Homo sapiens: one gene and its partners. The protein of the gene in region 2 interacts with the protein of the main gene of each other region in a pairwise test. Each region holds a gene or a part of one and is shown on either strand. Other genes may lie near its edges. The genes, in order: TSC22D2, UFM1 and KCTD21.

Evidence for each region.
Region 1: the proteins of UFM1 (region 2) and TSC22D2 interact in a two-hybrid assay, tested with the Homo sapiens proteins (one study listed by BioGRID).
Region 3: the proteins of UFM1 (region 2) and KCTD21 interact in binary tests that used the Homo sapiens proteins (3 or more experiments, as listed by UniProt).

The regions. Positions count from the first base shown.
Region 1 is NC_000003.12:150,411,284-150,418,391, reverse strand, and holds part of TSC22D2 (TSC22 domain family protein 2), read right to left. Parts: coding exon 7,084-7,108; intron 1-7,083. UniProt on the Homo sapiens protein: Reduces the level of nuclear PKM isoform M2 which results in repression of cyclin CCND1 transcription and reduced cell growth.
Region 2 is NC_000013.11:38,345,841-38,352,935, reverse strand, and holds the start of UFM1 (ubiquitin-fold modifier 1), read right to left. Parts: upstream 3,086-7,095; 5' UTR 3,017-3,085; coding exon 3,015-3,016; intron 2,938-3,014; coding exon 2,881-2,937; exon of another isoform or gene 2,822-2,880; coding exon of another isoform or gene 2,709-2,821; intron 1-2,708. UniProt on the Homo sapiens protein: Ubiquitin-like modifier which can be covalently attached via an isopeptide bond to lysine residues of substrate proteins as a monomer or a lysine-linked polymer.
Region 3 is NC_000011.10:78,185,597-78,193,403, forward strand, and holds the start of KCTD21 (BTB/POZ domain-containing protein KCTD21), read right to left. Parts: upstream 3,031-7,807; 5' UTR 2,977-3,030; exon of another isoform or gene 2,928-2,976; intron 1-2,927. UniProt on the Homo sapiens protein: Probable substrate-specific adapter of a BCR (BTB-CUL3-RBX1) E3 ubiquitin-protein ligase complex mediating the ubiquitination and subsequent proteasomal degradation of target proteins. Promotes the ubiquitination of HDAC1.

The DNA of each region.
Region 1 (7,108 bases), on a different chromosome or scaffold from region 2:
AGTCTACTACCCTCCCAATCCCAATCTGATCTGATGTCTCAAATTGTTCCCATTAGCACCTTATATTACTCCATCACCACCTCCAATGTATGTCAAAGTATACATCTGATCATCATTTTCATGATGATGAAAATGCCTGAGATCTAGGAGGGCAGCATAGTCTCATATTTGTATTCCAGTGCTCACTACTCACAGAGCATCATGAAAGCTGAATGACTGATAAGCTGTTTTAAATGTTTTCTTGGGCAATCAACCTACTTAATGAGTATTTACAAACTTCATTTATTGCCACACAATAGTCAAGTGGCAGGAAAGGGGTAAAAAGAAGAAAGTTTAAGTTTGCAGTTCTCTCATGAAGCACACTTGAATGTATGGTCTCATATACATAAGGCTAGAAGGAATCTTAAAATTTGACAAAGTCTCAAAAAAGAAAAACAGACAAGTGAAATGACTTGACCAAAGAAACCAGCTAAATGATAGAAGAGCCAGGACTGGAACACAATTCCCTATACTTCTTACAACATCATGACTCGTCTAGACTAAAACATCATCTCCTTTTTTCTGACTACATCCATACCATACAATTACGCTTTCATATTAAAATGGAAGATTCTTGGTATGATTTATAACATGTAAAGGGGTGATCTGGGAGAGCAGTTTGGACACTGAAATATTAACATTTCTGTGATACACGTTTGCCACATATATTATGTTACAGACTGTTCAAATTACTTGCACACATCATTTAATTCCTTAAAACTCTCCCAGGTAGGTACAATCCCCATTTTTCATAAGAGGAAACAAGGCATCTACACCAACTAGCTCAAAGTCAAATGTAGCAGTTAGATTTTAGCCCGGGTATGTCTGACTCTACTGTCTCTGTAATGGTCATTCACATATGTTAACACATAATTAAACACGCTATTGGTTTTATTTGATCAAAACAGCTCCTCCCTCCTTTGTTTTGTCTTCAAAGACTAGGTAGACGGTATGCCAAGCAAAGATTTGTTTTGCTTTAACATATAAAACCACTTGATAAAAACTAAATACTAACTCTACTTTAGAAACTAGAGGCTTTACACTTACCTTTGGGAATCCTTTATTCAGATTAAATTATATACTTGTGTAATAAGATGAACAGCCTAAAACTAACATTTAAAACTATGCCATCATTATTTACAATAATTGACACATTAATCACAAACTCCATCTTCTACAAAGCAATATTCTTTAGACAAATTTTAGGAAAGGCTTATGGGAAAAGAAGCTTTAAGTAATTTAACATTTAGACTTTACTTATTTGTCCTGCCTACCCTAATAATAGGTATATGTCCCAGGCAAACACTAATAAAATTAACTCAGTTACCTGCAGAACTTTCACTAACATCACAAATAAATGTACTACTTAAAAGGATGGAAGCACTTTTTCTTTTTAAACAAAAATTAGCTTGGGTACAAAGGAATCAAACTAAATACTAAATACTAATTATTTAAGTCTGATTTGAGGCTTTAAATTTGAGATAAGCAATCCAGATGAAATTTAATTCACCTGATTTAAGAGCAGAAATCATGCAATACTTTCATACAGGAAACAATCCATCAATATACCTTTAATATTATTAAACCAAATCTGAAGAGTATACCTCAAAGTATACTTCCTAAAGTCATGGAATAATGTATAGGAATGGTGCAAACTGGCTACTGTTCCTACCTTTTTATGAGGGACACCCAGTTTTTGCCCTAAGCAATGCCAGATTAAGAATATAACAAATATCGAGTAATTTGATATGTTCAAGAATTGCTGTGGGAAAGACATTATACCAATGATTCAGGTATACATATTCTCTGTGGACTCAATACAATACCATCGAAAACAGTAGCCTCAAATCACAAGCCCACTGGTTTAGTATAAAGAAAAACCATACACTTAAATAATTTATTCTAATTTAGGAGTTTTGCTACACATACTCCTTAAATATGATTAATATTTCTTACCAAAAATCTGCTTTTCCAATTTAAGGAATTACTTACGGAATATCATTCAGGCTATGTTTAACCAGACAGACCTGCTTTTGTAAGGCCTCTCCTTCCTCATACTTTAAGTATTTAACGAGTAATGCAATTAAGAAATAAACAGAATCTTCAGAAAAGGAAATACACACTGGACTAAAACAATTCTTCAAAGAAAGAATTAGAACACCATTCCTCAGTATTCACAAGTGTTCCTATTTCTTTTGAGACTATATTTCATGCCACTCCACTGTACTTTCTTCCATTTTGATTATCTGCTATCATTCTACACTTCCCCTTCCCCAACTCCTGCCATTTTAGGAAAGGAAGGTCAGATTCCTTTTATACTTTCCTAACTACCATTCCTTTATTAGGAAACAGATTTATTTGGGTTTCTCTACTACTTGATTGGTGGGGCTGCTATTTGTTCATAACTGCTTCTGATCTTTTCTGGTGCAGAGAAAGATAGACTCCCATTCCTAATTAGGAAGTACCAGATTCATAGATCCAGTACCATATTTCACTATTTCCAAATTAGTGCTATCAGAATTATTTTTTTTCTTTTTACAGACAGGTCCTTGCTGTGTGGCCCAGGCTTCAGTGCAATATTATAATATAGCTCACTGTAGCCTCCAGCTCCTGGGCTCAAGCAATCCTCCTCCTACAGCCTCCCCAAGTAGCTAAGACTATAGGTGTTGGCCTCCAGACCTGGCTAATTTTTAAATGTTTTGTAGAGACAAAGCCTCGCTATGTTGCCCAGGCTGGTCTCCAACTCCTGGCATCAAGCAATCCTCTGACCTTGGTCTCTCAAAGTGCCAGGATTACAAGGCATGAGCTACCGCTCCTGGCCCAGGATTCTTAAATAACAAATGAATTGGCATTATATTTATTCTCAGGAAGTAGAGGACATATATACCCCTACCACCAGTCCTATATAAAATGACTTCTCATAAAGGTGATTTAGTTCAGGGGTTGTGATCTCCTAAAAAGAAAAAACAAGTGTTACTAAAATAGTCAGCTGGAAATCTGTATTATTCACACACATATAAGCCATCATGTTTTCTAAAAAAATTTACCAATGTTTGGCCTATATGATTTAGTGCACATAAAATTTTATACAGTATGTGTCACTGTGAATATAAAAGGCCACACTCCTACAGATATAGCTCATGGTTTAGGAATTTCGGGTAGTTTGGAAAATCGTAAGCCTTTTTGGAAATCTGTCATTTCTTTTATTTCAAGCCACGTTTATGAATAAAGTATGTTTTAGTAATCCATGTGGTATCCATCAGTAATCCCTGATGAATACATCAGTATCAGTTTTTATGCTAAACAATAATGACACATATATACGAATTTACATTTTTACTACTAACTCCTCAGTAAGAACACTCTTAAACGTGTAGATAGGCATAGGATAGTATCTAGTATGTGATTCAGACATCAACTGTAAACCTACAAGAGCAAAATTACCTTCACAATTTAACAGATAAATGTCAGCTTCCAAGAAACAGAGATTCAAGTAAGAAATTTCCATCTTTAGAGACTTCAATTCAGTGAGACTTTCATACAACAGAGGTCGAAGACTGAGACAGTTCTGCCTCCTGGTATACATTTACTTAATCCTCTCACTTAAACTTCAAGTAAAAAAAGCAGCAGAATTTGGTTTAAAATATATATAAATGTACAAACAAAATGTGTATTTATGGCACATACCAGGACACACCACTTAACATTCACAATGTATAATATTTTATCAGTGATCATTAGCAAACCACACAAATAAAACCATTAACAAGACATAGAAATATCTGCCACCAAAGGATCCTTAGAATCAGGTTTTCAACAGTCTTTTGGCCACAGATGACAGCTCACAATTGCAGCCATTCATAAGAGTTCCTGGAATGCGGCCTACAGAGTTCACATTGGTTGGCTATCTATGGAAAGTGATCTGTACTGTGTTCCTTTTCCAAAAGGGCCAGTAATATTTTGCACCTCCTCTCATTTACAGGAGACTGTTAAGTGTGTACGTAGTTTAAACAAGTTTTGTAAAGTTCACTATAAAAGTAGCTACATATTTAAGGACTGTATTTTCAACCATCACATCCACGAGTTTACACAAAATCAATCTGAAGAGTCTCAACAACTGACCATAAACCTTTCTAATGAAAATGGCCAGAAAGATAAACTTTATGGTAATTAATAATGTAGAGTCAATAGGCAATGCTAATTGAGAACTTTTTGCATATACAACCATCAGCCTTTTAAAGGTGTGATAATATTAAGATGTATTACTATAAGGCCCGGTTCTTTAATTATAAATGATCTCAAAATTAAGCCAATATAGAACTTTGCATTAGGTAATGGAACCAAAATCTCAAGATAAGAGTTTTCAATGTATCAACCTAAACCACCTCAATCTTTTTGTTAATTTCCCATTTTCCTTTCTTTTCTCAAAGAAATAGACTGTTTACTAAAGTCCTAATTTTTTTTTAAAAAAAGCATATATCTTATTTACAAATATTTCCTTAGGATCTGAAATTTGTCAAACTACTTGCAAAGTTTAAATCACAATTAGTCAAGACCTCTCACTCCAGTTGGTTTTATTTCAAATTTGAAAACATGCAGATTTTAAGGCGGCAACCCAAAATCACATTAAAATTAAAATTTTCAGTTAAGATAGTAGTCTCCTCAAAAGTACTCATCTCAGTAATTTAAACATATGCCTGGAAAACTGTTATTTAATTTCAAACACAAAATTTTAAAATACCCTGTTCTTTTTTTTTTTTTTAACCAAAGCTTTCTATTAAAAAAAAAAAACACAAAACAAAAAACCCAACTATTTCTACCTAATGGATTTATTCCTTCACCAGGTATGTTGGACCAGTGACAAAACAGTCAAATGTGTAAGATTACATCTTGGAAACTAGCATGTCAAGTTAAAAACCAATGAAAGACTGTAACAAAAATCAGAAATGAACATTGGTAAGCAATGTAGATTTTAAATGATTGGGGCAAGGGAGGGAAGTGTCATGTTTAAAATAGGACTGTACATACATCAAAACCCCTGCACTGAATTAACTGTTGCAATTGGTAAGAACACTGATACAGTAGTATCTGTAGTTCAACCATTCACAAATTTGGAAATCAGAGTTTTCAGATTACCAACTCTTAATACAGTAAGAGGAAAAAATAAATGCATTTTTGATGTCATACCCTAAAGAATACATTTCAGTTTCCATCTATCAACAGAAGTCTCTGCTTCATGCCTTATCATCGTACTAAAGTTCTGAGGAATCTAAGTATGGATGCTGTAAACTGAGAGAGGTGTGCACAGAAGGGAAAATGTAATCTGCATTCTCGGGTGGAGGGGTGTGTGTGTGTATAGAAAGCGGGGTAGCTCAGGAAACCAGTCATCATTTCTTGAAGAGATATGGGCAGTATACAGGAACAGAGGAAAGCAAAAGGTTATTTGCCAACTTATCAGGAAAAAATTGGCTTGTGGCAGCTAGAAAAGTGAAGATGCCTGTTGATTATTACCAAAGGTGAAAAAATAAACTCAATCTGTGTTACAGGTGTGTCCCTGTGTGTGACAATGGGAGCAACTATAAAAGTAGAGGGATTTTTCTGAGTGGCTTGTGGAGTCAGTTTACTTAGTAGTCCCACACACACAAAATTTCTCAATGACTAGCTAGCTGAGCTCACTTATGGACACGTGGTATTCTCTAAGCGTTCTCAAGTGAAGAAAGACTCCCCATAAGCAAGTCACCTACAAAAAAAGATGAACTTTAAATTACAAAAAGCAGAGAAGATGAATGAATTTCAGTCAGTGAGTATTTTTCAAACCAACAGAAGTATATAACAAAAATACAAGGCTAATTAGAAATGGGAGGTTAAGAAATGTGAAGGAACTCAGAAGAAACCATAGGAAGAGAAAGCTTTAACATACATGTCATTGTATTCTTCCACATACTAATTATTCTGGAAATCCATAATATTAGTTTGTATCTTTTAAAAACACCTAAAATTAGCCTCTCGCTAAACAAAAACCCCAGCAAAGAAATGTCTAACTGTGAAATTCCTGAAACTTTTTCTATAATTTTTAAATATAATTTTAAAACATTGCAACAAGTCAGCTTTTAAAATTTTGCAATATGTATGTCAAATTTACATGTGACATCTCCTCAAAACCACAAAAATCCTCACTAAACCATAACCAAACATCAGCTGTTGTGGCACTGGTGTAGCAATACACTAATTCTTATTTAGGCCATTAAAAAAAGCATCCCTAAATACAGGGAGCCAATTATTAACATTTACACTTTTATTATAAAATTACTCTTAATTTCAAGAACTATAGCTTTCACTACAGTTAAAGGATCGATCTCAACCTCCCTTTCCTATAATAAATAGACTGATGGAAAGTAAGAATATCTTTCCAGTACATTTTTTGCTTAACAACAAAAAAATAGTATCTTAGAGAAGTCCCTGGGAAGACTCGTGACCTTGTACCTCCTTTAATCAAAAGGCTGAACTAAGTATGATCTTCAAAGCCGGATTTGACATTTCACCATTATGTCTCCAGCCTTTCCAGATACACTGGAGAAGATTCCTTACATAGATTTTTTTTTTCACTAGAGGACCTTCTGGTTTTCCAGAAAGGAAAACTTGTAGTATTATTATGTCTCAGCCTCAAAACTCACACTGACAAATCTCTCTGCCTTACGTGTTCAAGTGTGATTGATATGTAAGAAAAGGACAATTCTATGGGAGCATAACACACTAGCTACCACCATTAAATGGTAAGCATTAAGCTTAAATTCACCTTTTTTTGAGTAAACAATGTTGCATCCCTACCCATTTTAGTGCTTTTAAACAACGGTGACAAGACCAATTCGCTCATTACACCCTTTGACATCAGCATCAGCAATCTAAATCAATTTTACCAAAAACTAAATTTTGTATTTAAAAATGCTAAGGGCCTCCGTTGACAACAATCTCCCAAAGTTGCATCCTAAGCTACAATGTTGGCCAAGCATTTCTATCAAATATTTAAAATAGAGATTTCCATACCTGTCTTCATCACCATCAACAGGAA
Region 2 (7,095 bases):
CAGTGTATATGTAGTTAAGAATCTGAGATTCATTTTCCTAAAACTCTGCATCAATTGGAGAACTTCTAAACCCTTGGAGTTCAATTCACTTTTAAATCGGAGACTTGGAAATGTCCTTACAATATACCTAGATGTCATACTGATGCTCATTAAAATAAGTTTCTATCTGTATATTAAGTTGGTGAGTGTCCACAGACAAGCCAATAAAAACAAATCAAAAATGAAAACATCTTTTAATGCAAGTTCTAACTGGCAGAAAATTAGAAAAAATGAGAGTTACAGTGACTCCACAGATCTTATCTAGATTTAAAGTTGTATTTGCCAGTCATTTCATAAAATCGGTACTTAAATTATCCCAGTGTTTTGAATAAATTTACATTAATGAGAATTTTTGAAGTAAATTACTGGCATCATTTGTTTTTTAAATAAATATATAAACAAAATAATAACATAAATTGGTAAGAATTATTATAAAGACTAAGTCCACAGGTAACTCAAGAAGGGCGAGATTAACTCTGTGGACAATTAGAAAAATCTTTGGCCAGAAGGGGTGGCTCACGCCTATAATCCCAGAACTTTGGGAGGCCGAGGTGGGCAGATCACGAGGTCAGGAGATGGAAACCATCCTGGCTAACACAGTGACACCCCGTCTCTACTAAAAATACAAAAAATTAGCTGGGCAAGGTGGCACACACCTGTGGTCCCAGCTATTTGGGAGGCTGAGGAAGGAGAAGAACTGGGAAGGCGGGCGTTGCAGTGAGCCAAGATCGTGCCACTGCACTCCAACCTGGGCAACAGAGCGAGACTTTGTTTCACAAAAAAAAAAAAAAAAAGAAAGAAAGAAAAAAAAACAAACTTCATAGAGGTGAGATTTTTATTACTATAAAATATGTTGTGATCATGAGACTGCATTCTAAGCACAGAAAAGAACATGTGTAAAGGAAGCAAAGATTAAAAGGGCAAGCTTGTCAAGTACCCAAGTACTAGTTACCATGTACTTTGAAAAGAAAATATAGCACAGATACCCTTGTACACACATTTACACGTTATGTGAATTTTCCACACACACATCCTTATACACATACACACACAACTACACACGCACACATACATACTAAACAACAGTTGTACCTACTAAATTCATTCAGTCACCACATATTAACTGAACTGGTACAATGTTCCAGGCTCTTAATGTTATTGTCCTACTCTATCATTTTCTTCCTTCCTTCTCACGCTCTCTTTCGAGTACATTTGCATATTGATGAGAATAATCCAGTAGAAAGGGAAAAACCAATCATGAGGAGAGAGGGGGCACTGGACTCCATCTACTTTAACCTTGACAAGACTGAAATAGATGGGAACTATAGCTCAAGTGGTTTTTCATAGGAGTGAAGTCATTTTTTCCATTCTAACAGGATGGGAAATTAACGGATTTATCCATGTAGTGGTAGGTTTACATTGGTGTAAAGATGATAGAATTTCCCTCTGATGGCTTGATAGCAAGGGAGACAGCAGCTGTGGAAAGTTTGAAATTTTTAAACAATCTTTTCTGAGAATAAGGAGGAAAATGAGCAAACTTGAAGAATGTATTAAGTACTAGGTACTATTAATTGTAGTCATGAATTTAATGTAAACCCTCCAGTCTGTTATTTTCTCCAGGGGCAGTCAGCTATGTACAGATAATACAAACAGCTGGTTTCAGAGTTGGTGTTTCACTAACCAAAATATGCTGAGAGGAGAGACAGGGCCACCAGAGTTGAGGGTGTTTGCATGAGAATGATTTAAAGGTGGACCAATGGACTCTTAACTATATAAGGAGTAAGGTAAGGAATAGAAGTGGGGATAGCTACAGATAAAAAATCACTGTGATTAATGGATTAAATGAAACGTTGTAGATGAGAAATTATAGTAAATCATGTAGGAGAGAATGTATTTATCCATAAGAGTGCCTGTAAACGACATCTCAGAGATGGAGCAATTATTGGAATCTTAAGGTTCTAGGCTGCAACCATGAACACCTGAGATAAAGTGTAACAGGGATATTTTGGAGATGAAAAGATCAAGGGAGGAAAAGGCTGAGAGGTTGTACGGATCATGGATTGGTAAATCATTGAAATTTATCAGTCAGCTAGGTAGGCCAAGGTACTAATTAATTATGCAAAAAATTCTATTGTAATCCTGTTCTTTGCTACATTTCATGCTACTTCCAACTGCAATAACCTCAAGAGTGTTTACTTAAAATCTATCACTCAACTGCGAAGGATAAGTAAAGGCCCCACATGGATAAACTATCCCCTATCTGCATTTCCCATTCCTACCAAATACTCTATTAAATCCCAGCATAGGAAGGGTGTGATCTGAGTCTCATTACTTTGTGATGCCCGACTGCTGAGTTACTCATACACAACGAAACTCAGAAGCCGCGGAATAACAAATGTTCAAGTAATTTCAAAGTCTTGACTATCAAGATGGAATGTCTTCCTTAACTTCCTCAACCAGCTGGCCAAAGCGGTGAAACGCTTTTCTAATATCCAGCAGATGGGGACTGTTTAAGAATCCCAACAAATTACCAGAACCTGGTCCACCTGTCCTCCCGCGCCACCTGCCCACCAAATGAATTCCGAGGGGAGGTCACTAATCAGAAACACACCCACACCCTCGTGACGGGGCCAAGCTGCCAAGCTGACACTTAGCGAGCAAGTACGGACCTCTCCTCGCAGGCTCCGGTGGGAAAGGCTCCTGGAAGGGCGCGAGCCAGGAAAGTAGATGAAGTGAAGAGATGAAGACTGCGTGGGGTAGTTGTTGGAAAAGCTCGGATCATCCCCAACCCAGCCCCGTCTTGTCCGGCCCCAAAAGGCCCATCTCGGCCGAGCTACTCACACTTTGTACGGCAGCCGTGGGTCCGACGTCAGCGTGATCTTAAAGGAAACCTTCGACCTGAGGAAAAGAGCGGGAGAGAGTCAGGGTCGGGCAGCTGGACCAGGAATTATGGCAGTCGGTAAGCAAACACTTACATGGTGGTGCCGGAATGAATCCAGAACACACGACAACTCCGCGGGGGTAGCACGACTTCCTCTAGTGTGCTGGGGACCGCCCCGCTCCACTCACGTCCACGTCTCCCTCTGCAATCTGGGGACCTCCGAAGTTGTTGCTATCCAACGCACTGCCTGAAAATTGGCCCTAAGAGCTCATGCTAGATGGCGCTTTTAAATTACAAATATCTTGTGCTTTTGCGTTTATATATCTAAGAAAAAAGTATGGATTATATTTATAAGATATCTTTCTAACTTTGGTAATTTGCTACCATATTTTTAGTCAGGCAGAATAAGCGTGGGCATAGAGCGTAGGACCCTAGGTTCCAGTTGGCAGGTTGGGGCGGAAGTAAGGGTATGGGGTAGTCGGATGAAGAGCGAGATGGACTTGGGGCGAAGCTCGGGGCGAGGCCGGGGGCGGGGCTGGGGCGGACGCGCTCTAAAGTTTCTAAGGCAACCTGAGCGCGGAAAAGCTTAATTGGTGCTCCAGAAGCAGGAATTGTAACACTGCTTTATCATTAGTTTTCTTCCGTCTTTCCAGCAAACCAATCCTGTTATATCCTTTACATTTCTCATAGTTTCTCCTTCACGCTTTACTTTCCGATACTGATTTATAACTATTGAATTTCGGTTAAGTAAGAGAGCTATCAAGTACGAATTATCTATGCCAAGACTCCCGCTGGGGTGGGTGAGAAAAAATGAGGTTTCTACGTTTGGGGAACGTGGCGTCTAGTTGGGAAGACACATCTATGAACAGGAGATTTCAGTAATTTGTTATATGGTCTAATTAAACCAGTGCGCTGAGTTGCTAATCACTGACCACATTTATTCAATTTAACAACCAACTTTGAACCCTTTCTATTTGCCCGGCGCTAAGCTAAACTCTGGGGAATCCAAGATGAGTAAGGCAGGTAGGCGTCAACTCTCTAGGATCTAACATCCTGTGTAGTGATGACGGAAGAAAATTGTCCTCTAAACTTTATTACAGATCTAAACCTCTGTGTTTGGAAAATATGCGTCTGTCTCACAATGACTGAAATGCCCTTTTAAAACATTAGCATGAATAGACAAAGGAGGAAGCAGGTAGGCATTAAAATAATGGGGCAATCTAGTTGATCTTTAGAATATGCATCAGATTCTTAAGGAGAGATACTTAAGAGAGGAACCAGGAAGGAACTGTAGTAGGGATAATGGAGATCAAATTCATCTTTACAATAATTTTGCAGCCAACTGATCTTCTATGGTGACATTTCCCAGTGGAGAGAGTTCTGGTTCTGAGTAGGCAAGTAAGACTCCAACATTCTCATGACAGCCATCCTCACTTTTTAAAATAATGGTCTTACCATATATGTAGATGAAGCCAAATATTGATTGACAGATACAGGGATCAACAGTTACAGCCTTAATAGCTGAAACTATTCAATTAGTGGGTGTGACTAAAACTTGTGAGAATAGTAATAAGGATAAAACTGTGATTGTGTCTACCTATTGTCAGCTAGCCAAATAATAATGAAAGAGATGAGTGTACATATTTACAGTCTATAAGACTACATATAATATATTTTGAAACAAAATTTGCATCCTGCTATTTATAGTTTGGTTTCTGCTCATGAATCAAAACGTGGCAAAATCCTAAAGAGAAAAATGGATATTAATCAGAGAGCTTTTATTGTATGTATAAAAAGTGGTGAAAACAGAATTCAGTCCCACAGTGTGACTTTAGTACTCAGATTCTGCTGCTTCAGAAAATACATTTGTATAATATATCAAAATAACATCTCTTGAGATATTAAAAAGCAGCTGTTTCTAAATATTTAGAATTCTTTTTCACCTCAGTCCCCAACTCTGCTTCTCATGTTTGTCTCCTCAGAGTCACAGCATGATTTCTGCAGCCTCCTGAGTTTTATTTTGCTTAGGACAAGAAAGAAATTATAAATGGATTTATTTATAATCAATTTTTTTAACTTTGTGAAGGGATTTGCAATTGGAAAATTTTATAGCAAAACAAGGACCTTCTCTTTTACTGAAAAGTTAAAATGTTGAAGTACGTTTAATGGCTGTAATCAGAAGCAAACTCTGGAGCAAATTTTTGGAGATAATTGGCAATGGAACATTTTAAGACAACAAATAGCATAAATGGCCTAATGTGTTTTGGAAAAGATCCAATTAGTATCATGTAGAGGCAGAAATGACTGTAGAAGTGCACAGTGTGACCATGTTAGACCTCATTAAATGTCAATGAAGCATACCAATATTCTATTTGCAAATGCATATAAATTTCCCATTATTAGAAGAAAGCCAGAAGGAAATTAAATTTACATAAGGACTAAAAAGATTTGCTTCCATAGTCATAGAAATTCTTCTGACTAGTTATTTTTATAGCCAACTTTATTTTTTATATTCCTCTGGATGCCAAAAAAAATTCTTTCATTTTCACCATAATTTGATTGTATTTACGATTATGACTAGAACCATCTGATAGTCAAATTATGTAATCTTGAAACATCTGCACCTGAATAAATCTTAAGGTGTTCTATTCCAAATACTTTATATTACAGGGAACAAATTATAGACTGATCAATTAATAATTGACTGGTATTTTAATAGTACTTTAATTTGTTCATTTTTTTCTATTGCCTTTTCTCCCCTCAAAATCCACTAAAAGGCATTGATATAATTGAAGCAATGATAATAATGACTCAAAATTCATTAAGATTTATTTTTGGCTGGTATTAACCACTTTGTACAAATCAATGACAAAATATAGACTTTAAACTTTGATGCCTTGGCTATAAGTCATAATTTAGTGACAAGAAGCCTTATACAAAGAGGAGAGAGTGGATTTGGTTACAGAAGTACTTGGGAATATGTAAATGCTGTGTTATTTTTCAAGGTAAGGACTAGAAGGTTAGAGAATATTTACATTCCTTTGAGTCAAAAAGAACAATGAAACCCAGGTGAGATCGGAGCCTAGCAAGTCCAGGCAAGCCCTTACAGAAGACTATAGCTCTAAATGTGCTACATTTGATTGTTACAGTTACATATTTTTCCCAAATATTTTCTAAAATTCAGTGAGAAAAAGAAATGACTTTTCTACGAAGCTCATTGACTACAATGTTTCTAAATTTGAGGCTTAATCACAAAACGTGGAATATTTTAACCACAGAATTTGTAAAATATCTTTATTACAAAATGGCATTTTGAACTGTGAAAAACAGGAATTTAACAGTCTGGTATAATTAAATTTTCTCTCTAAATATTGTGCGAATTCTTCATTTAATGGAAACATTACTTTTAGAAAAACTGAAGTAGCCTCTGACAAATCCATTTCAACCATGAGTTTTTTTTTTCCACATTTACATATTTTTATCCTTCCACCAGCTAAATGAGGTAAATATTAATGTTCTATTTTTACTTTTCTCTATTAACTTAAGGTTTTCTGATTCAAGTTGAGATTTTTAGATCCATTTGTAGTTTCTCCCCACATGACTCTTCTTGCAGTTTTATGTAGAATACAGGCTTCAGAGGACTGTGACGTCTGGTCCTTTGTCATCATCTCTCCATATTCTCAGTGATATTTGTGTCCACTCCAAACATCTGAGACACATGACATCTCATTTTTGTCTGGTGATATCACTCCTTTTTGTGTGCTGGCAAGACGACTTTAGGACTGTTTGTTGTCTCTAAGGGATGTAAGAAAAGTGCCCTCTTGTACCACCCTGTGGCTATAGGGAACCCAGAAGAGCTCAGACATCTTTGACTAAAGATAACATGTTTTCTCCCTAGAATGAAGGGAACTTTGTTGTCTTCCTGGGCTTCAATGGGAGCAGGAACTGGGCATCTTTTCTCTGATTCTGAAATTCCCTAGAGATTGTTTCCCTAGGGATGAAGGAATAGGGCCATATTTCGGGGAGACCTTACAATGTTTATCATTTTCTTCTCCTCCTTTCTCCAGCCCAGAGTATTTTTTTATAGACTTTATTTTTTAGAGCAGTTTTAGGTTCACAGCAAAATTGAGCAGATAAAGATACTTCCTATCCCTATATATTCATAGCCTCTCACA
Region 3 (7,807 bases), on a different chromosome or scaffold from region 2:
ATTTTTTTTTTTTGAGATAGAGTCTCGCTCTGTCACCCAGTTTGGAGTGCAGTGGCGTGATCCTGGCTCACTGCGACCTCTGCCTCCCAGGTTCAAGTGATTCTCCTGCCTCAGCCTCCTGAGTAGCTGGGATTTCAGGTGCGTGCCACCATGCCCGGCTAATTTTTGTATTTTTAGTAGAGACGGGGTTTCACCACGTTGGCCAGGCTGGTCTCAAGCTCCTGACCTCAAATGATCCACCCACCTCAGCCTCCCAAAGTGCTGGGATTACAGGCGTGAGCCACCGCGCCCGGCCAGGTCTGCCTATCTTCTGTGCTGTGATTCTGCCTGGAAGAAGATGGCTGTTCAGGCCTTGTTTTTCCTGCCTCATCATGAACCCAGAATCTCTGTAACTCGGCAGGAAAGAAACTCCTGTCATGACTCACTGTGAATGTTGACAAAGAGAGGCCACTCCTGGGCCTCAGAAATGTCAAGGATGGGCAGAAAGAACTGGAGACAGGCCAGGCTCAGTGGCTCATGCCTGTAATCCCAGCACTTGGAAGGCCCAGGTGGGAGGATCGCTTGAGTTCAGGAGTTTGAGACCACCTGGACAACATAATGAGACCTCGTTTCTATAGAGAAAAAAAAAAATTAGCTGGGCATGGTAACACGTGCTTGCAGTCCCAGCTGCACAGGCTGAGGTAGGAGGATCGCTTGAGCCTGGGAGGTCAGGCTGCAGCAAGCCGAGATCACGCCACTGCACTCCAGCTTGGGCAACAGAGTAAGACCCTGTCTCAAAAAAAAAAAAAAAAAAAAAAAAAAAAAAAAAAAAGAAAAGAACTGGAGAGGCTGTGTGGGGTAGGGGCAGACCATGCATGGTATTCGGCATTACCTGGGTTTGCATTTGAATCATCCCCTGCCACTTACTAGCTGTGCAGCCCTGGGCACGTTCCTGGGCAGATGATGATGATCATAACAACAACAAACACTACAACGGCAATAATAATGGCTAACGTTTATTGAGCAGTTACTACCGTGCTAGGCACTCTATACATGTTAATCTCTTTCAATCTCACAGATTAAGTAGATACTATTATATACCTACTTTACAGACCAACCATACTGGGCCCTCTTCGACTTCTGCAATTTGGCATCTGCCATCCCCTCTGCCTGGACCTTGAAGACAAATCCCATGCATCGGCCAGGTCTCTCAGCTGGAATTCATTCCTTCTCCTCTGCATCTGCGGAGAATTTTAGTCTAACCCCTTACCACAGCCAACTTTACTTAAGTAGATGGATGCCTGGCTCCCTTGCTGGGGCTGGGGGTGCCCCTTTCTATATCCACAGAAGCACGTAGAATAGGGGAAGAGGAAGAAATTTCTCTCCTGTTTAGTCAGATCCATTTTCCCCACCTGGATTTTCAAAACTTTTTAATTTTGAAATGCTCTGTTCAATTTTCAATCTGGAATCTAAAGGGATGTGACAAGGCCGAGGTGATTACTTGGGAGTAAATGCAAGGAGAGTTTCCACTGCGTAAGGGAATGGACAGCACGTGGCTGGGTAAATTTCAAAAAAGACAATGCTCAGAGTGAGTACTGTGTTTTCCAGTAAGTGGGAGACTTCCCCACCTTACCCCACCGGAGAAAGGACTCTTTGCCTTGAAGCCCCTAGGACGACTACCCTTTCTTCACCTCCTCTTCCTGACCACCCCACATCAAAGAGCTGCGTCTATAATTCTGTCTTGCCCAGTCCATATCTCTAAGAAATCCGAAGGCTGCTCTATTACCATCACAACCCATAGGGAGGAGAGAAAAGGTGCTTCCTAGACACAGGGACCCCAGAATGAGCTGCGCAAAAGGCAGGAGGAGAGAAAGGTGGGCTGGAAGAAGGAGACCACGGAATCTGGCACGGCAAGGTATTCTTTCATCTGGCGTAGACCTCCAACAACCACTACCATCCCCCAGCCCCTTCCAGAACTTTCCTTCACCTTCTCGGCTCACTCTCACGCTTCACCTTGTGCTTTTCCTCCGGCACCAGCACCCCATTTCAAACCGCTCTCTTCCTATGTCTCCTCCAAACAGTAATTTATAAACACCGTGCTTTCAAATCCATCTCATTTCATCCTCACAGTACTATAGGAGGGCTGCCTTACAGGCTGTCATTCGGAAGGGTTGGGGGGACTGGTCCTGCCAGACAATTTGCGAAGGTCGGGGCATCAAAACTTTTCTTTCCTGCCTCCCACGCCAAGCTAAACCTCTGCCTCCCCGAGTGCAGGGAGAAAAGCAAGGTCTTTGAAGTAAGGAGTCCTGAGTGGTTTTAGGCAAGTCCCTTCGCTTTTCTGAGCCTCACATTCCTCACCTGTCAACCGCTATAGTGACGCCTCTACTTTTCAGGGCGTGGGAGGTCAATGAGATCACTGGTGTGCCGCACTGAACTCGGGGATGGACTCTTTATTTCCAGTCAGTAAAGGGAGGTGTTCTATGCATCACAGGCTTTTGCCCACGCCGCCACAGCGCGGCCGGCCCAGGGCTCTCCAGAGCGGGGCAAGTTCCCTGTCATCTGTGTCTCCGCCCTTCCTTCCCCAATCTCACCCAGGCTGGCCTCATCGGCTTGTTCCGCACCCACTCCCCAGCCCTACAGCCCCCACTCCGACCTGACAAGTGCCCCACCCCCACCTAGAGATCCCGCCTCTCCTTGCCCCACCCACCAAGGACTCCTCCCACAGTCCCGACCCTCATTATCCGGGCTTTTCCGACTATCACCATCCGCCCTTGCTCTCCCAACAGCCCCGCCCCTCTAAGAGCTCTGCCCACTTCGGCTCACCTCGCTCCGAAACGCGCCCCCTCCCCCGCACCACAGGCGATGCCATCCCCATTTCACAGATGGGAATGGCGAGGCTGGGATAGATTAGTCTCATGGTAAGACAGGTGCTCAGTGGGCCCACGTACCCTCGCCGGTAGTCCCCGAGCCCCGCGACCCCGGCCGTGCCGCACCCACCTCCTGCCCTCGCTCTGCAGCCTCTCCCTCCGCGAGCGGCCAGCGCAGCTTTGCGAGGGGGGCGGAGGGTAGGAGCCCAGCCCAGGGGCGTGGCGGTCCGGGGTCTGTGCGCTGCCTTCCGGGACTGGTAGTTCTCTCTGGGCTCCTCGCAGCTCGGCGCGTCGAGAGCGAACTCCATCTCCCAGGAGGCATTGCAGCGAGTTGCTCTGCGCCCCGCCTCGTCCCCGCCGGTGTCCGGCCGGCTGGCCTTAAAGGGGACGCGGTCAGAGTGGCAGCTCGCGGGGTGGCCCCCGCTCCGGCTCCGCCCCATTTCACGCACCTCGCCCCTCCCCATGCTTCATCCCGCAGCCCCGGGGCCGCGCCGCAGAGTCGGGCTTCCTGGATACATAGAGGCTTGTGCCAGGCGGGGTGGGAAGACTGGATTTTGCAGTGGAAGCAGCATCTCTTCCGTCTGGGACCTGGCTGAGGGCGTCCCCACCCTGGGGGGAGCAGAGGACCAGCCCTGACCTAGCCGGGCCCAGCCTCGTCCTGCCCGGCCTGAGCGCCCCGCCCAGCAGCCGGCTCTGGCCCACCGGGGTCCGGGAGGTAAGGGGGTTGGGGGCGTGTGACTGTCTTTGGGGGGCGGTGTCTGCACCCTGGCCTTTCGAGAACCCTGGACTTGCGAGCCCAGGGCTGGGAGTCGGGAGATCTGGGTGCATCCTGGGCCTCCTGGGCCTCACTGTGTGACCTTGGGCGAGTAGCTATTCCTCTCTGGGCATTAATCCCCTCCCTTCATCAATTGTATGTCGAAGTGATCCTGCTCCCTCCCCTTTCAGGTAAGAGGGCATTCGCACCCAGTACCTAGTACATTCGCTTGCTGGCTTTTCGTGGGGCCCTCCAGCTCAAGCGTGGGCTGGGCGCGGGTGCACTGGAGGGAGGGAGGTGGCACAAACTGGGGGGCCCGAGGCCACCATTGCTTGGAATGGGCTTTTCCTATTCTCAGTGTGCTGGGCCCTGGGATACCCTCCCCAACCCCCTCTTACGGCCCTGGCCCTTGCAAACCGGAGACCCTGATGTGTCAGCTTGGTGCCCTTCCTTCCAGAAAGCTTGGGGTGGAGTGCGGCCCTCACAGGTTTGTGAGGGGTGGCCCCGCAGGGATAGGTGTGTGTGGTGGGTTCCTGAGGAGGAATAGCTGCTCCTGCTTTCTTCCCTTCTCTCTCCTCCTTATCCTTTGAGGAAGAGCAGCTGCTTTTTACCAGTGAAACCCTTTTTTCTTTTTCTTTCCAGGAGACAGTTTGGTGGCCCAGACATGGGCCTCCCGGAGTAGGGTGAAGCACTTCTTCCCAGGGTTGCCTTGGGTAGAAGTTCAGTTAAAAAATACCTAGAGAGATGCTGCCATTCAGACACCTGAGGGGCCAGAGATGGAGGGCACCACCTGGTGTCGGGAGGGGCAGCCTGGTACCCCCAAGGAAGCTCTGGCTCCCAGGGGAGTCAAAGGAGGGAGGCTGGCTTCGAGGGTCAGAGAGGGGAGGAAATGTGCTCCTCAGCTCTTAGGTGCTGAGCAGAGGCTGGGAGGGGCTGCTCTGACCTGGAGCAGGGAGAGGTTGAGTAACACCATGAAGCCTTCTTCTCAGGTCCTAGGAGATTCTGTGAGCTTTTGACCTGAAGGCTAACCAGGAACAGATTTTTGTTTTGTTTTGTTTTGTTTTTGTTTTGTGCTTTTTCTTTTGCTTTGGTTGTTTGAACAATTTCTAGAATGGCTAAAGCCTCAGTCCAGTCCAGTGACCTCTGTAGGGGCTTTCTTGACTGATGTTTAAGATTTTCAGGGTTTTTGATATGCAAGACCAGGCCTGGGCAAAGGAGGGGGTGGTGACTGGACCAAAGGTTAGGCCAGTTTCTGGAAGGTACTTTTGTGGTTACATCTTTGGTTTTCTCTCATCTTGCTGTCACATGTCTCTCATGAGTTGCTTGACGCACCTTCACGGACACCTCAGTCCTTGGTTCTGTACTGGGCACTGGGCTCAGAGACGGGGATTGGACCTCTGCCAAGGGAGGTCCCAGCCTGGTGGGAGACAGAGACATGGATTCCAGTTATGCTGCAGAGGGATGAGAATAGCTAAGAGGGCCTTGGAGGCCAGAACTTTAGACACTTGAATTGTGGAGGGAAAAGGAAAGGCTTCCCAGAGGAGAGGGCATGTGAGCTGGGCATTGAAGGGTGAGTCAGAATTTTCCAGGAGAGAAGAGGGAAAAGCCCTTTTTCAGTAGAGGGGACATTGTGCAAAGTAGCAGTCAGGAAAAAGCCCCCTGCTCCAATGTCTGCAGAGTCTCCACTGAACAATGTTGCTTGAGTTCATCTCCACCCCTGCCCCACATCAGCTGAGTGTCACAGAAAGGGCTTGCATGTCCGGCTCAGGAGTTTGGACCTTATTCTGGGTCCAAGGGGCTGGAGAGTGTTGAGAGTTCTGAGCAGGGGCATGGACGGAATGGTGCTTACCGTGTAATAAGCTCCATCTGACGATGCTGCATCTGGAGAGACCAAGGAGGGATGATGAAGCTTGAGCGGGGGCCCAGGGCGTGGCAGTGGGGCTGAGCATAGGAGTTGTGTACACACACATACACACACACACACAGGGTGCTTTGGGGTGATGGAGATAAGTCAGGCTCAACTGTGCAGGAGCAGAGATCAGTCAACACTCGGCAGAAATGTTGAGGGTCATCCGAGAGGAACAGGTGAAAGGATCTGGGCCTTTTGGCAGAGGGATTGGGATTTTCCTGAGTGCTCACTGCGTGCCTTGGAGTGTGCTGGTGTTGCTGGGACGCCCCTCAGGCTGTCATGCCAGTAGGGCGAGGGGTATGAGGCAAGGGCTTGGGAGGAGCAGCAGCGCTGGCTGGGAAAGGCTAAGGGGTGGGCACGTAGTCACCTTCTATTTGGGCATTCCGAGGATCACAGAGGTAAAAGAACACCTACCTCCATGGTGGCTGGGCTAGACTCGAAGCCTGGACTCTGTTCTCCTCTAGGACACATGCCTCTGTTGGAGGATGGATTGAGGGAGGGAATTGGGAGATGGGTTAGGAGGCTACTGCACTAGTCCAGGCAAGAAGTCAAGGGGTCTGATCCTGGGTGGGGCTGGGAACACCGAAGTGGCAGGGAGGGCTAATGGAGGAAATGCCTTGGAGAATCAGCAGGATCAGCAGTGCGTGTCTCCTTGTCTCCTTTCCCTGACAGTATCTGTGTCTCCCATCAGTGCCAGGTGGCCCAAAAATAGACTCATGACAGCCCGGCCCTCATCTTTTTTTTTTTTTTTTTTTTGAGACGGAGTCTTGCTCTGTCCCCCAGGCTGGAGTGCAGTGGCATGATCTCGGCTCACTGCAAGCTCCGCCTCCTGGGTTCACGCCATTCTCCTGCCTCAGCCTCCTGAGTAGCTGGGACTACAGGTGCCCGCCACCACGCCCGGCTAATTTTTTGTATTTTTAGTAGAGATGGGGTTTCACCGTGTTAATGAGGACCTCATCTTTTTTATACCTTGTCTCAACCCTGTGAATGGTAGGCTTGGAATAGTCCCCATTTTCCAGATGAGAAGGCTAAGAAGCCAGGCAGGGGCTCACCCAAGGTCACCATGACTTTGAAGCAGAAAACCTGTATCTTCAGCTTTTAACACAGGCTCTCCTCGGGGAGGACATGGCTGCTGTTTGCTGCTGCGGTTGGTGCGGGGCAGCTGTCTCTTGAGTCAGAGCCAGCATGGACAGGCCATCTCCTCACCCGGGGCTTAGCAGGCTAATCCAGCCCTCCTGAGGGAGGCAGAGTGCAGGTTCTAATCCTGCTTTGCCAAGGCCATGTTCCTCTCTCTGAGCCTCACTTTCTTCATTCCTGCCAGTGGGATAGCTGGCCTTGTCCTCCCTTCCCTGGCCTGATGGGGCCAGGTGAGGTGCAAGCCTCTAAAACCCTTTTGTCTGAGTGCATGCAAGATATTGAGTGGGTTTGCTGGTGACCATGGTGACAGCTGTCCTCAGACTGCCTGCGTGGGAGTTGGGGCAGGTGGGCAGGGCTTGCTTGCTGTGGCCAGGCTACGGACTGAGCAGAGGCTGCCGGCTGGCCTTGGAGATCAGAGCTCTCATGGAGCAGCTCTATTTGAACTGTCAGCTGCCAGGCTTATGTGGTGTTAGGTAGAACAACATGAAATTGCCAACATTTGATCATTCGGTTTCATGCGGTTCAGTCTAATAGCATTTGTCCCCATTTTACAGAAAAGAGGCTCATGGGTATGATTTACTGAGGGTCACACAATGAGTCAGGGCTAGAATGTAGGACTCCTCATTCCTAGTCTGATACTCTTTCTACTCTTTCTAGTACTCTTTCTACTACCAGAGTCTTCCCTGTCTCCAGAACTCCATTTCTGCCTGCCCCCATGCCCTCTTGCTTCACACATGATGCCAGTGCCTCATGGATTAGGGTTTCTTCTTGGCTGCCTGAGTACCAGGATTTCTTGGCATCCTGGGTTGAAAGCATATGAAATCCACTAGCCATCCCAGGGGTCTGGGAGGATGGACTGTTTGTGTGGGGGAGGTTGGCCACAGCAACTGCCTTGTCACGGGCACTGCCTAGAAAGGGGACCAGGGCTGAAGGGAGAGTTAAAAAAATTTTTTTTCTTTTTTCTTTTTTGAAACAGGAACTCACTTAGTCACCCAGGCTGGAGTGCAGTGGCGTGATCTCAGCTCACTGCAACCTTCGCCTCCCAAGCTCAAGTGAGCCTCCTGTCTCAGCCCCAACTAGCTGGGACTGCAGGTGTGAGACACTACGCCTGGCTAATTGATGTAATTTTTTTTTTTTTTTTTTGTAGAGATGGGGTTTTGC